Homo sapiens: one gene and its partners. The protein of the gene in region 3 interacts with the protein of the main gene of each other region in a biochemical or structural test. Each region holds a gene or a part of one and is shown on either strand. Other genes may lie near its edges. The genes, in order: HDAC4, HDAC5 and ATF3.

Region 1 (3,648 bases), on a different chromosome or scaffold from region 3:
ATTTTCTAACAGAACCGCTCCCGTCTCCAAGCCTTCATGCACATATGTACCTAATGAGTTTTTATAGCAAAGAATATAAATTTGCTGTTGATTTTTGTATGAATTTTTTCACAAAAAGATCCTGAATAAGCATTGTTTTATGAATTTTACATTTTTCCTCACCATTTAGCAATTTTCTGAATGGTAATAATGTCTAAATCTTTTTCCTTTCTGAATTCTTGCTTGTACATTTTTTTTTACCTTTCAAAGGTTTTTAATTATTTTTGTTTTTATTTTTGTACGATGAGTTTTCTGCAGCGTACAGAATTGTTGCTGTCAGATTCTATTTTCAGAAAGTGAGAGGAGGGACCGTAGGTCTTTTCGGAGTGACACCAACGATTGTGTCTTTCCTGGTCTGTCCTAGGAGCTGTATAAAGAAGCCCAGGGGCTCTTTTTAACTTTCAACACTAGTAGTATTACGAGGGGTGGTGTGTTTTTCCCCTCCGTGGCAAGGGCAGGGAGGGTTGCTTAGGATGCCCGGCCACCCTGGGAGGCTTGCCAGATGCCGGGGGCAGTCAGCATTAATGAAACTCATGTTTAAACTTCTCTGACCACATCGTCAGGATAGAATTCTAACTTGAGTTTTCCAAAGACCTTTTGAGCATGTCAGCAATGCATGGGGCACACGTGGGGCTCTTTACCCACTTGGGTTTTTCCACTGCAGCCACGTGGCCAGCCCTGGATTTTGGAGCCTGTGGCTGCAAGGAACCCAGGGACCCTTGTTGCCTGGTGAACCTGCAGGGAGGGTATGATTGCCTGACCAGGACAGCCAGTCTTTACTCTTTTTCTCTTCAACAGTAACTGACAGTCACGTTTTACTGGTAACTTATTTTCCAGCACATGAAGCCACCAGTTTCATTCCAAAGTGTATATTGGGTTCAGACTTGGGGGCAGAAGTTCAGACACACCGTGCTCAGGAGGGACCCAGAGCCGAGTTTCGGAGTTTGGTAAAGTTTACAGGGTAGCTTCTGAAATTAACTCAAACTTTTGACCAAATGAGTGCAGATTCTTGGATTCACTTGGTCACTGGGCTGCTGATGGTCAGCTCTGAGACAGTGGTTTGAGAGCAGGCAGAACGGTCTTGGGACTTGTTTGACTTTCCCCTCCCTGGTGGCCACTCTTTGCTCTGAAGCCCAGATTGGCAAGAGGAGCTGGTCCATTCCCCATTCATGGCACAGAGCAGTGGCAGGGCCCAGCTAGCAGGCTCTTCTGGCCTCCTTGGCCTCATTCTCTGCATAGCCCTCTGGGGATCCTGCCACCTGCCCTCTTACCCCGCCGTGGCTTATGGGGAGGAATGCATCATCTCACTTTTTTTTTTTAAGCAGATGATGGGATAACATGGACTGCTCAGTGGCCAGGTTATCAGTGGGGGGACTTAATTCTAATCTCATTCAAATGGAGACGCCCTCTGCAAAGGCCTGGCAGGGGGAGGCACGTTTCATCTGTCAGCTCACTCCAGCTTCACAAATGTGCTGAGAGCATTACTGTGTAGCCTTTTCTTTGAAGACACACTCGGCTCTTCTCCACAGCAAGCGTCCAGGGCAGATGGCAGAGGATCTGCCTCGGCGTCTGCAGGCGGGACCACGTCAGGGAGGGTTCCTTCATGTGTTCTCCCTGTGGGTCCTTGGACCTTTAGCCTTTTTCTTCCTTTGCAAAGGCCTTGGGGGCACTGGCTGGGAGTCAGCAAGCGAGCACTTTATATCCCTTTGAGGGAAACCCTGATGACGCCACTGGGCCTCTTGGCGTCTGCCCTGCCCTCGCGGCTTCCCGCCGTGCCGCAGCGTGCCCACGTGCCCACGCCCCACCAGCAGGCGGCTGTCCCGGAGGCCGTGGCCCGCTGGGACTGGCCGCCCCTCCCCAGCGTCCCAGGGCTCTGGTTCTGGAGGGCCACTTTGTCAAGGTGTTTCAGTTTTTCTTTACTTCTTTTGAAAATCTGTTTGCAAGGGGAAGGACCATTTCGTAATGGTCTGACACAAAAGCAAGTTTGATTTTTGCAGCACTAGCAATGGACTTTGTTGTTTTTCTTTTTGATCAGAACATTCCTTCTTTACTGGTCACAGCCACGTGCTCATTCCATTCTTCTTTTTGTAGACTTTGGGCCCACGTGTTTTATGGGCATTGATACATATATAAATATATAGATATAAATATATATGAATATATTTTTTTAAGTTTCCTACACCTGGAGGTTGCATGGACTGTACGACCGGCATGACTTTATATTGTATACAGATTTTGCACGCCAAACTCGGCAGCTTTGGGGAAGAAGAAAAATGCCTTTCTGTTCCCCTCTCATGACATTTGCAGATACAAAAGATGGAAATTTTTCTGTAAAACAAAACCTTGAAGGAGAGGAGGGCGGGGAAGTTTGCGTCTTATTGAACTTATTCTTAAGAAATTGTACTTTTTATTGTAAGAAAAATAAAAAGGACTACTTAAACATTTGTCATATTAAGAAAAAAAGTTTATCTAGCACTTGTGACATACCAATAATAGAGTTTATTGTATTTATGTGGAAACAGTGTTTTAGGGAAACTACTCAGAATTCACAGTGAACTGCCTGTCTCTCTCGAGTTGATTTGGAGGAATTTTGTTTTGTTTTGTTTTGTTTGTTTCCTTTTATCTCCTTCCACGGGCCAGGCGAGCGCCGCCCGCCCTCACTGGCCTTGTGACGGTTTATTCTGATTGAGAACTGGGCGGACTCGAAAGAGTCCCCTTTTCCGCACAGCTGTGTTGACTTTTTAATTACTTTTAGGTGATGTATGGCTAAGATTTCACTTTAAGCAGTCGTGAACTGTGCGAGCACTGTGGTTTACAATTATACTTTGCATCGAAAGGAAACCATTTCTTCATTGTAACGAAGCTGAGCGTGTTCTTAGCTCGGCCTCACTTTGTCTCTGGCATTGATTAAAAGTCTGCTATTGAAAGAAAAAGAAAGCGAACAGTTTTTGTTTGTTTTTTTTGCCGTGTGTGCTCCATAGTGGAGGCGCTATTTTCCAATTGATGAGAATGACAAACATATATAATCTATCTATCTATCTATCTATCTATCTATCTATACAGGGGGCTTGAACCTTACTCACCCAAGAGCTTCTTACGGAATGTGGTAGAAAACCAAGTTGTAACGACACTGTAACCTACCTGATGCCTGTTCGCGCCCGCCGTGAGCTGCGCACTGGCCGTGGCCACCATTCACCTCTGTAATTTAATCCGTTTCTCTTGGATTGTCTGGACGTGCCCGATGGTTCTTTCTTTTGCTCAGTGGAGTTGGAGGTTTTGTGTTTGGTTTTCTCATTCTTGTCTTGTTTTGTGTGGGTGGATTTTCACCGACCAATGATATCCTCTTCTGACGGTCACCTTCTTTCCACTTCACTGGAGTCCAGTATTCTGTACCACATCACGCAACGTGTTATCTTGTGGTGTAAATAAAGACTGCGTTACTTGCCCTCCCAGCTCTGGTTTCTGCCCGTGCGCTCTCTTCCTCATTGGCTCTCGCATGTCTGGGACCCTGTGGGCCGAATGGCCAGTGCCCTGGGTCCCATCCGGATGGCTGCATGGGAATCACTGGACCCCATGGGGACGGCCCCTAGACCCAGACCAGCGGCAGGC
Region 2 (3,648 bases), on a different chromosome or scaffold from region 3:
CTGGGGCTGTGTTCCCGGGCTGCCGCAGCCTGGGCCTGCTCGGCCCCCACCGACAGCAAGGCCATGGCGCTCACAGTCTCGGCCTCCTCGGTCTCACCTGCTTGGGCCTCTCGCAGGGACCGGCCCAGACCAGCGGCGAACTTCTGCACACAGCTCCAGTGTTTGCCTGTGGACGAGAGACAGGCAAGGGGTCAGGGAGGGCAGAGGACACCCACATGAACAGTCCCAGTCCTGGTGCTCCCACAAGCTCCGTGCCCCCTTGGCAGCCTGAGCCCCTCTACGTGTCCTCACGCACTCTGGATCTCGATGACTTTCTCTAGCGTGGCCACTGCGTTGATGTTGGGCTTTTGCTGCAAGACTGCCTCATCCAAGGGCTGCAGCTGGCAGGGGAAAGAAGAGAAGGCTTAGGGTGGGGAGTAGGGTTGCCATGCATACCCCTCTAACTGCCCCACTCAGCCCCAGATATCCCTCACAACAGGGGCAAACATGGCCTTTTTGGACAAACGCATACTCAGAAAGCCTGGCCATTAGCTGTTCCTTAGGACCAAGGAAAAGCTTCCTAAGGGGCTCCCAGTGCTGGCTGACCCCTTGCTGGCCCCTCAGACCTCTGGCCTGCCACCTCCCAGCTCCTTCCCACCCCTTACCTCTACACTGAGCAGAGCCGAGACACAAGCCTCAGAGGCATCACAGATGGCGGTCAAGTCATGGCCTCCCTCCAGGGCCAGCACCACCCGGCCCCCTGCCAGGGTCATCAGCTGCCTGGTCAAGTGGCCAAAACCTTTGAGGATGGGTGAAGGGAGGAAGAAGAAATGGCGAAAGGTAATCAATCAATTCAAGAGCCAGTAAGAGGAGAGAAAAAAGGCCAGGCGCGGTGGCTCACGCCTGTAATCCCAGCACTTTGGGAGGCCAAGGCGGGCAGATCACAAGGTCAGGAGTTCGAGACCAGCCTGACCAACATGGTGAAACCCCGTCTCTACTAAAAATACAATAATTAGCCGGCCATGGTGGCACGCGCCTGTAATCCCAGCTACTTGGGAGGCTGAGGCAGGAGGATGGCATGAACCCAGGAGGCGGAGGTTGCAGTGAGCCGAGATCACGCCATTGCACTCCAGCCTGGGTGACAGAGTGAGACTCCACCTCAAAAAAAAAAAAAAAAAAAAAGAAAGAAAAGGAGAGAAAAAGAAACACAAGAGGTGGGACAAATAGCACAAAATGTGATGGGAGATATAAACCCAAATATATCCATAATAAAATACAGCATCAGTGAACTAAATGCCCTATCACAGTCAAAACATTAACAGACTGGCTGAAGACTCCAATCCAATGACAAGGAGCATCACTGAAACACCAGGGACCAACAAGCCCATCTCTACAGCTCCGGCAGGATACATCCTCTATCCTCTGCTACCCCACTGCCACCTCCTATCCCCTCAAGGCCGGGGTTGGCAGAGGACAAGTTGGGGGAGTTACCAAGATGATTCCAAGTCTAGGCCCTGCCCCCTGCTTTCCCCGTCTGCTGCAATATCAGTCTGTTCCCTGCCCCATGCCTCACTGGACTCGATATCCTCACTGTTTCACTTCCTCCCTCAATCCCCCAGCAGGCTTACATCTGGCGGTGACAGAGTAGCCACCCAGAGGAGACAGATGTCCTTCAACAGCATCAAACCCGGCGGAGACTAGGACCACATCAGGTGAGAACTCGTGGGCAATGGGCATCACCACTGTCCTGCAAAGGGATGGCTCAAGCTGAGCCCGGCAGATGACCAGGCCAGGCCTCGCCCCACTGTTATCCTCCCAGAGACAACCCCCTCTACCCACACTGAACTGAGTGCCTTCTGCCCCTCCCACTGCAGGGCCCAGAGGGGCTCCCACTGACTACCATGGCCCTTTTCAGTCCCTACCTGAAGGCTGTAAGGTACTCCACGTCTCCAATGGGGGGGTCCACACCTCCTGTCCATGCCACGTTCACATTGTACCCCACGCCTGGTCCTCCACCAACCTGGCACCAGAGTTGGGGAGAGGGCTATTCTCACCACCTGGGAGTCCCAAACATTGCCCCTGCCCTCACCCCTGCCTCCAGATCTCACTCCACTGACCTCTGCTCTGCCTGGAGGGGCAGTCAGATCAGTGTGGTCCTCCCACTAGGAGCCCAGACTCCCCAGGTACCAACACCACCATGGGCCTCCGTGGCTCCCCGCCAGGTCCCATTGTGCCACCTCCCAGAGGGGCCAGGAGGGTCTGCATTTACGCCCAGGAGCTGTACCTCTTCAGGAGCCCCAGAGCCTGGAAAGAAGTTCCCGTTGTCATAGCGATGCAGAGAGATGTAGAGCACAGAGGGGTCATTGTAGAACGCCTGCTGGGTGCCATTGCCATGGTGAATGTCCTATGAGGGGAGGTAGAAGCATCGGGAAAATGGCCCGCGCTCTGACCCAATGGTCAAATTCCACCTGTCAGCTGAGCACTGTAGCTCATGCCTGTAATCCTAGCATTTTGGGAGGCTGAGGGCTGGGAGGATCGCTTGAGCCCAGGACTCCACCCTTGGCCACAGGGCATCCATATTCTGTTCACAATGGTATTGCACACCCCACACTTCTCTAACTAGGTCTGAGCCTCTGTGGGGTGGCACTGTGTAGGTGATATTCAAAACCATGGGATAAATGTGGCATATCTCCCTACAGAACCCATTCCACCTCACAGTTTTGGGGAAAACATTAAGGCTAGTAGGGAATTTAAAACAGGCAGATGAGATTCTTTCTTTTTTTTTTTTGAGACCAAGTTTCACTCTTGTTGCCCAGGCTAGAGTGCAGTGGCACGATCTGGGCTCACTGCAACCTCCACCTCCCGGGTTCAAGCGATTCTCCTGCCTCAGCCTCCCGAGTAGCTGGGATTACAGGCGCCCACCACTATGCCCGGCCAATTTTTTTTGTATTTTTAGTAGAGATGGGGTTTCACCATGTTGGCCAGGCTGGTCTCAAACTCCTGACCTCAGGTGATCCACCCACCTCGGCCTCTCAAAGTGCTGGGATTACAGGCATGAGTCACTGTACCCGGCCTTTTTTGTTTTCCTTTTTCTTTTCTTTCTTTTTTTTTTTTTTTTGAGACAGAATCTCACTCTGTCATCGAGGCTGGAGTGCAGTGGCATGATCTTGACTCACTGCAACCTCCACTTCCCAGGTTCAAGGAATTCTCCTGCCTCAGCCTCCCCAATAGGTGGGATTACAGGCTCCCGCCACCACACCTAACTAATTTTTTTGAATTTTCAGTGGAGACAGGGTTTCACCATGTTGGCCATCCTGGTCTCGAACTCCTGACCCCAAGTGATTCACCCACCTTGGCCTCCCAAAATGCTGGGATTACAGGCTTTGAGCCATTGTGCCCAACCACAAGCACGTAAGATTCTGAAGGAGGATCCAACATTTACATGAATTTTTAAGCCAGAATTGGGCTTCCAAGAGATTTTGTCCTTCCTGAGGCTTGGTCCTGGCTACTTCCCCAGCTCACAGAGAGTGGTGTGTGCCTCTGCCTCCACCATTAGGAGCAGGGTTTGGGAAGCACCCATGGTAGCAAGAGCAGAGTGCTGGGGCCAAAAGCCTTGGTCTGAAACCCAGTGCCGACATCCCCAGCTGAGTGGCCTTGGGTAAGTCACGC
Region 3 (3,648 bases):
GGAAAGACTGCTGAGCACCACCGGCCACCCTGCTTGCCCACAAAAGCTATTTCCCCTAGTGTCTCTCAGGCGGGCCGGCTGAACGCAGCCAGGGGCTCAGCTTACTGGCTAAGCCAGGGAGAAGGGCTCTAGAGTTAGGAACCAGACAAGAATGCAAAGCAAGTGTAACCACTGCTTGTGGATTAAGGAAATAACTTGTTTGAAGAGATTAATTAAAGGCTTTTCATAGTGAGCCAAATGAGAGCTGGCAGCTTCCTTTTCTCAGGAAAACAGTCAAGTGAAGCCTCTTTAACTGGGCTGGCATGTCCTGCAGCCTGGAAGCTGATGGACATGTATGAACCGGCCGAGGCTGCTGGGAGTCAGGCATCAGACGAATTCACACACCTGTTTTTATACATCCACCGTCACATCCATTGTGTTAACTGCTTTGCCACCTCCTCATTCTGCAACTGGCATTTCTGCTACCAGCTACAAGGCCCTTCTTGGGAAACTATAACCAAGTAGGGGGTTTTCTAACTCTTCTTCTGATAGCCACATGAAGCTGGTGAAGACAGGCGTGAGCGAGAGGAAGGGTAAGGCTAGAAGGCACTCACTTTCTGCAGGCACTCCGTCTTCTCCTTCTTCTTGTTTCGGCACTTTGCAGCTGCAATCTTATTTCTTTCTCGTCGCCTCTTTTTCCTTTCATCTTCTTCAGGGGCTACCTGTAAAATCCAAAAGAAACACATTTAAAGGGCAGTAAGAAATGCCACCTACCTCAAATACACTGCCTTTTACTGCCAGCAAAAGCTGGCAGACAAGGGCAATGCTAGCGCTAAAAGACCCCGAAATACTAAAGCTCTAGACTTTTGTGTGAAAACCCCTACACACACACACACACACACGCACACACACACACGTGAGTGAACAACAAAAATCAAAGTTAAAATTATACCGGCAATATATTAGTAAATTAAAAGTTAGCCAATTTTAAAAATGCATTTGGATTTTGAGATGAGGATAATATGCAAATTGATAACTATTGGTATTAACTATAATCATTTAAAGCCGAAACAGATTCTGTCTGGTAAACATCTCCTTTCTTTGAGAACCAGGAATGATCTCAGGATCATTACCTAGCCACCCACTCCCGGCCTCTTCTTCAATTCAAGACCCAAGGGCAACCCCATTCACCTCTGACTTCACCTGGAGCATCAGAGCACCAGCTTCCCAAATTTGGGAGAAGCCCATGATGCTCCTGTAGAAAAGGCACCTAAGCCCATTCCCAACCAAAGCGGCATTAATCGGCCCATGCTGGGGTGCCACCTGCAAGTGGTGAACTAGGACAGTCTTTTAGGTCAGTCCCACTACTCCTTGCCCAAAGGCTGCAATCATGCCAGTTGAGTAAGCCTGAAACACTTCCACTTGCCACCATGAGGAAAAGGCCAATAAAATGGTGGAACCTCAGCTCTGACATCCTTAAGCCACTATGGCATCGCCAGAAGCCACCTCCCAGACTTCTCACCATGTTTATTATTCCAGGAGTCTTACCCAAGGTTGCCAAGCGTGGAACAGTGCAAGTGTGTCAGACAGAAGTGAACCTGGAGCAACACCTGGTCCCAAGGCTGTGAACATTGCTACAGGGAAGGGTGGGGCAGGCTGCCTGGTCCTTGCTCTACTGTCTGGGTGCTTGGGTCCTAGTAGTGATAAAAACAGGGACCACCACGCTCCAAGCTTCTTCAGAACAACTGGACACAGAAGGTGGCCTCATCCTGACTCATGGCTTTAAGTGCCATCTATATGCCGATAATTTCCAACTCTATTATCTCTAGCCCAGACTGTCCTCTGAACTCCAGACTCACATATCCAACTGCCTGCTTGACATCTCCACAGGGGTCTGCAGAATAGGACAGACCTCCTGCTCTTGCCACCACCCTAACCCCTATAATCCCAAATCTCAGCAGCAAATGGACGCTCCATTCTTACAGCTATGCTGGCCAGAAAACTCAGTCACCCTTGAGTCTTCCCTTTCTCTTACACCCCACATCCAATCTATCAGCAAATCAGCTTTACCTTCAAGTCAGATCCAAAGCCAACCACTTCTCAGCACCTGCACTGCTCCCTCCTGCTGCAGGCCCCCTGACTCACGTGGATTCCTGCCACGGCCTCCTTTCTGTGCACTCAGCTTCTGTCTTACCCCTACTGCCCATTCTCAACATGACAGCCAGGGTGATCATTTAAAAATATAAATCAAGGCTGGGCGTGGTGGCTCACACCTGTAATCCCAGCACTTTGGGAGGCCGAGGCGGGCGGATTACCTGAGGTCAGGAGTTCGAGACCAGCCTGGCCAACATGGAGAAACCCCGTCTCTACTAAAAAAATTCAAAAATTAGCCAGACGTGTGGCGGGCACCTGTAATCCCAGCTATTTGGAAGACTGAGGCATGAGAATCCCTTGAACCTGGGAGGCAGAGGTTGCAGTGAGCCAAGATCATGCCACTGCACTCCAGTCTGGGTGACAGAACAAGACTCTGTCTCAAAAAAAAAAGTGTGTGTGTGTATCTGTGTGTGTGTGTGTGTGTTGAATCTTGTTGCTTCTCTGCTCAAAAGCCTTCTGTGGTTTCCCACCTCACTTTGAGCCCAGGGCTGCATCTATACAATAATAATCTGTAAGACCCAATATGACCAGCCCCTATTTATCTCCCACCCCTATACTCTGCCCCACTGCACAGCCCACCAGGCACCAATACTTCCACCTCAGTGCCCTTAATTTCTTTTACCAGATACCCACGTGGCTTCTTCCCTCTCCTCTTTCCTTCTTCCTTTCCTTTTGACCTCTGCTCAAAAGTCACTATCAGTGAATCCTTACCTGACTTCCTAATTTAAAACAGCAACCCCGGCTGGGTGCAATGGCTCATCCCTGTGATCCCAGTGTTTTGGGAGGCTGAAGCAGGAGGATCGCTTGAGCCCAGGAGACTGAGGCTACAATGAGCCGTGATCACCCCACTGCACCCCAGCCTGGGTGATGGAGCAACACTGTCTCTAAAAGCAAAATGAGTCTTGCTCCATCACCCAGGCTGGAGTGCAGTGAGGTGATCACGGCTCATTGCAGCCTCAACCTCCTGGGCTCAAGCGGTCCTCCCACCTCAGCCTCGCAAGTAGATGAGACTATAGGCCATGTACCACCTTGCCCAGCTAATACTGTCATAGAGATTGGGTTTCATTGTGTTGCCCAGGCTGGTCTCAAACTCCTGGACTCAAGCGATAATCCCATCTTGGCCTCTCAAAGTGCTGGGATTATAAGCGTGGGCCACCATGCCTGGCCTGAAAAGTTTTTAAACCCAGCAACCCCATCCCTACCCGTTCTCTCTGCCCCGCTCCCTGCTTTTTTCTCCTTTGCACTCATCTCTTAACGTGTACTTACGTATGTTATGTACTTCTGTCTCCTCCCAGGAGAAGGTAAGCTCCCTGAGGGCAGTGGTTTTGTTTGTTTCACTCTCAACAACAGCCCCCTGCCTAGAACATGCCCAACACACAGTGGCTGCGAGCGAAACATGTGCCGAAAGAATGAATACCTGTGATAGAACCCACCTCGGCTTTTGTGATGGACACCCCGAGGGGTCTGTCGCTGACAGTGACTGATTCCAGCGCAGAGGACATCCGGTGGCAGAGG

Evidence for each region.
Region 1: the proteins of ATF3 (region 3) and HDAC4 form a complex in vitro, tested with the Homo sapiens proteins (one study listed by BioGRID).
Region 2: the proteins of ATF3 (region 3) and HDAC5 form a complex in vitro, tested with the Homo sapiens proteins (one study listed by BioGRID).

Annotation. Positions count from the first base shown.
Region 1 is NC_000002.12:239,048,011-239,051,658, reverse strand, and holds the end of HDAC4 (histone deacetylase 4), read left to right. Parts: 3' UTR 1-3,491; downstream 3,492-3,648. UniProt on the Homo sapiens protein: Responsible for the deacetylation of lysine residues on the N-terminal part of the core histones (H2A, H2B, H3 and H4).
Region 2 is NC_000017.11:44,078,500-44,082,147, forward strand, and holds part of HDAC5 (histone deacetylase 5), read right to left. Parts: intron 2,384-3,648; coding exon 2,264-2,383; intron 2,000-2,263; coding exon 1,902-1,999; intron 1,727-1,901; coding exon 1,608-1,726; intron 779-1,607; coding exon 645-778; intron 381-644; coding exon 296-380; intron 167-295; coding exon 1-166. UniProt on the Homo sapiens protein: Responsible for the deacetylation of lysine residues on the N-terminal part of the core histones (H2A, H2B, H3 and H4).
Region 3 is NC_000001.11:212,615,180-212,618,827, reverse strand, and holds part of ATF3 (cyclic AMP-dependent transcription factor ATF-3), read right to left. Parts: coding exon 3,567-3,648; intron 702-3,566; coding exon 594-701; intron 1-593.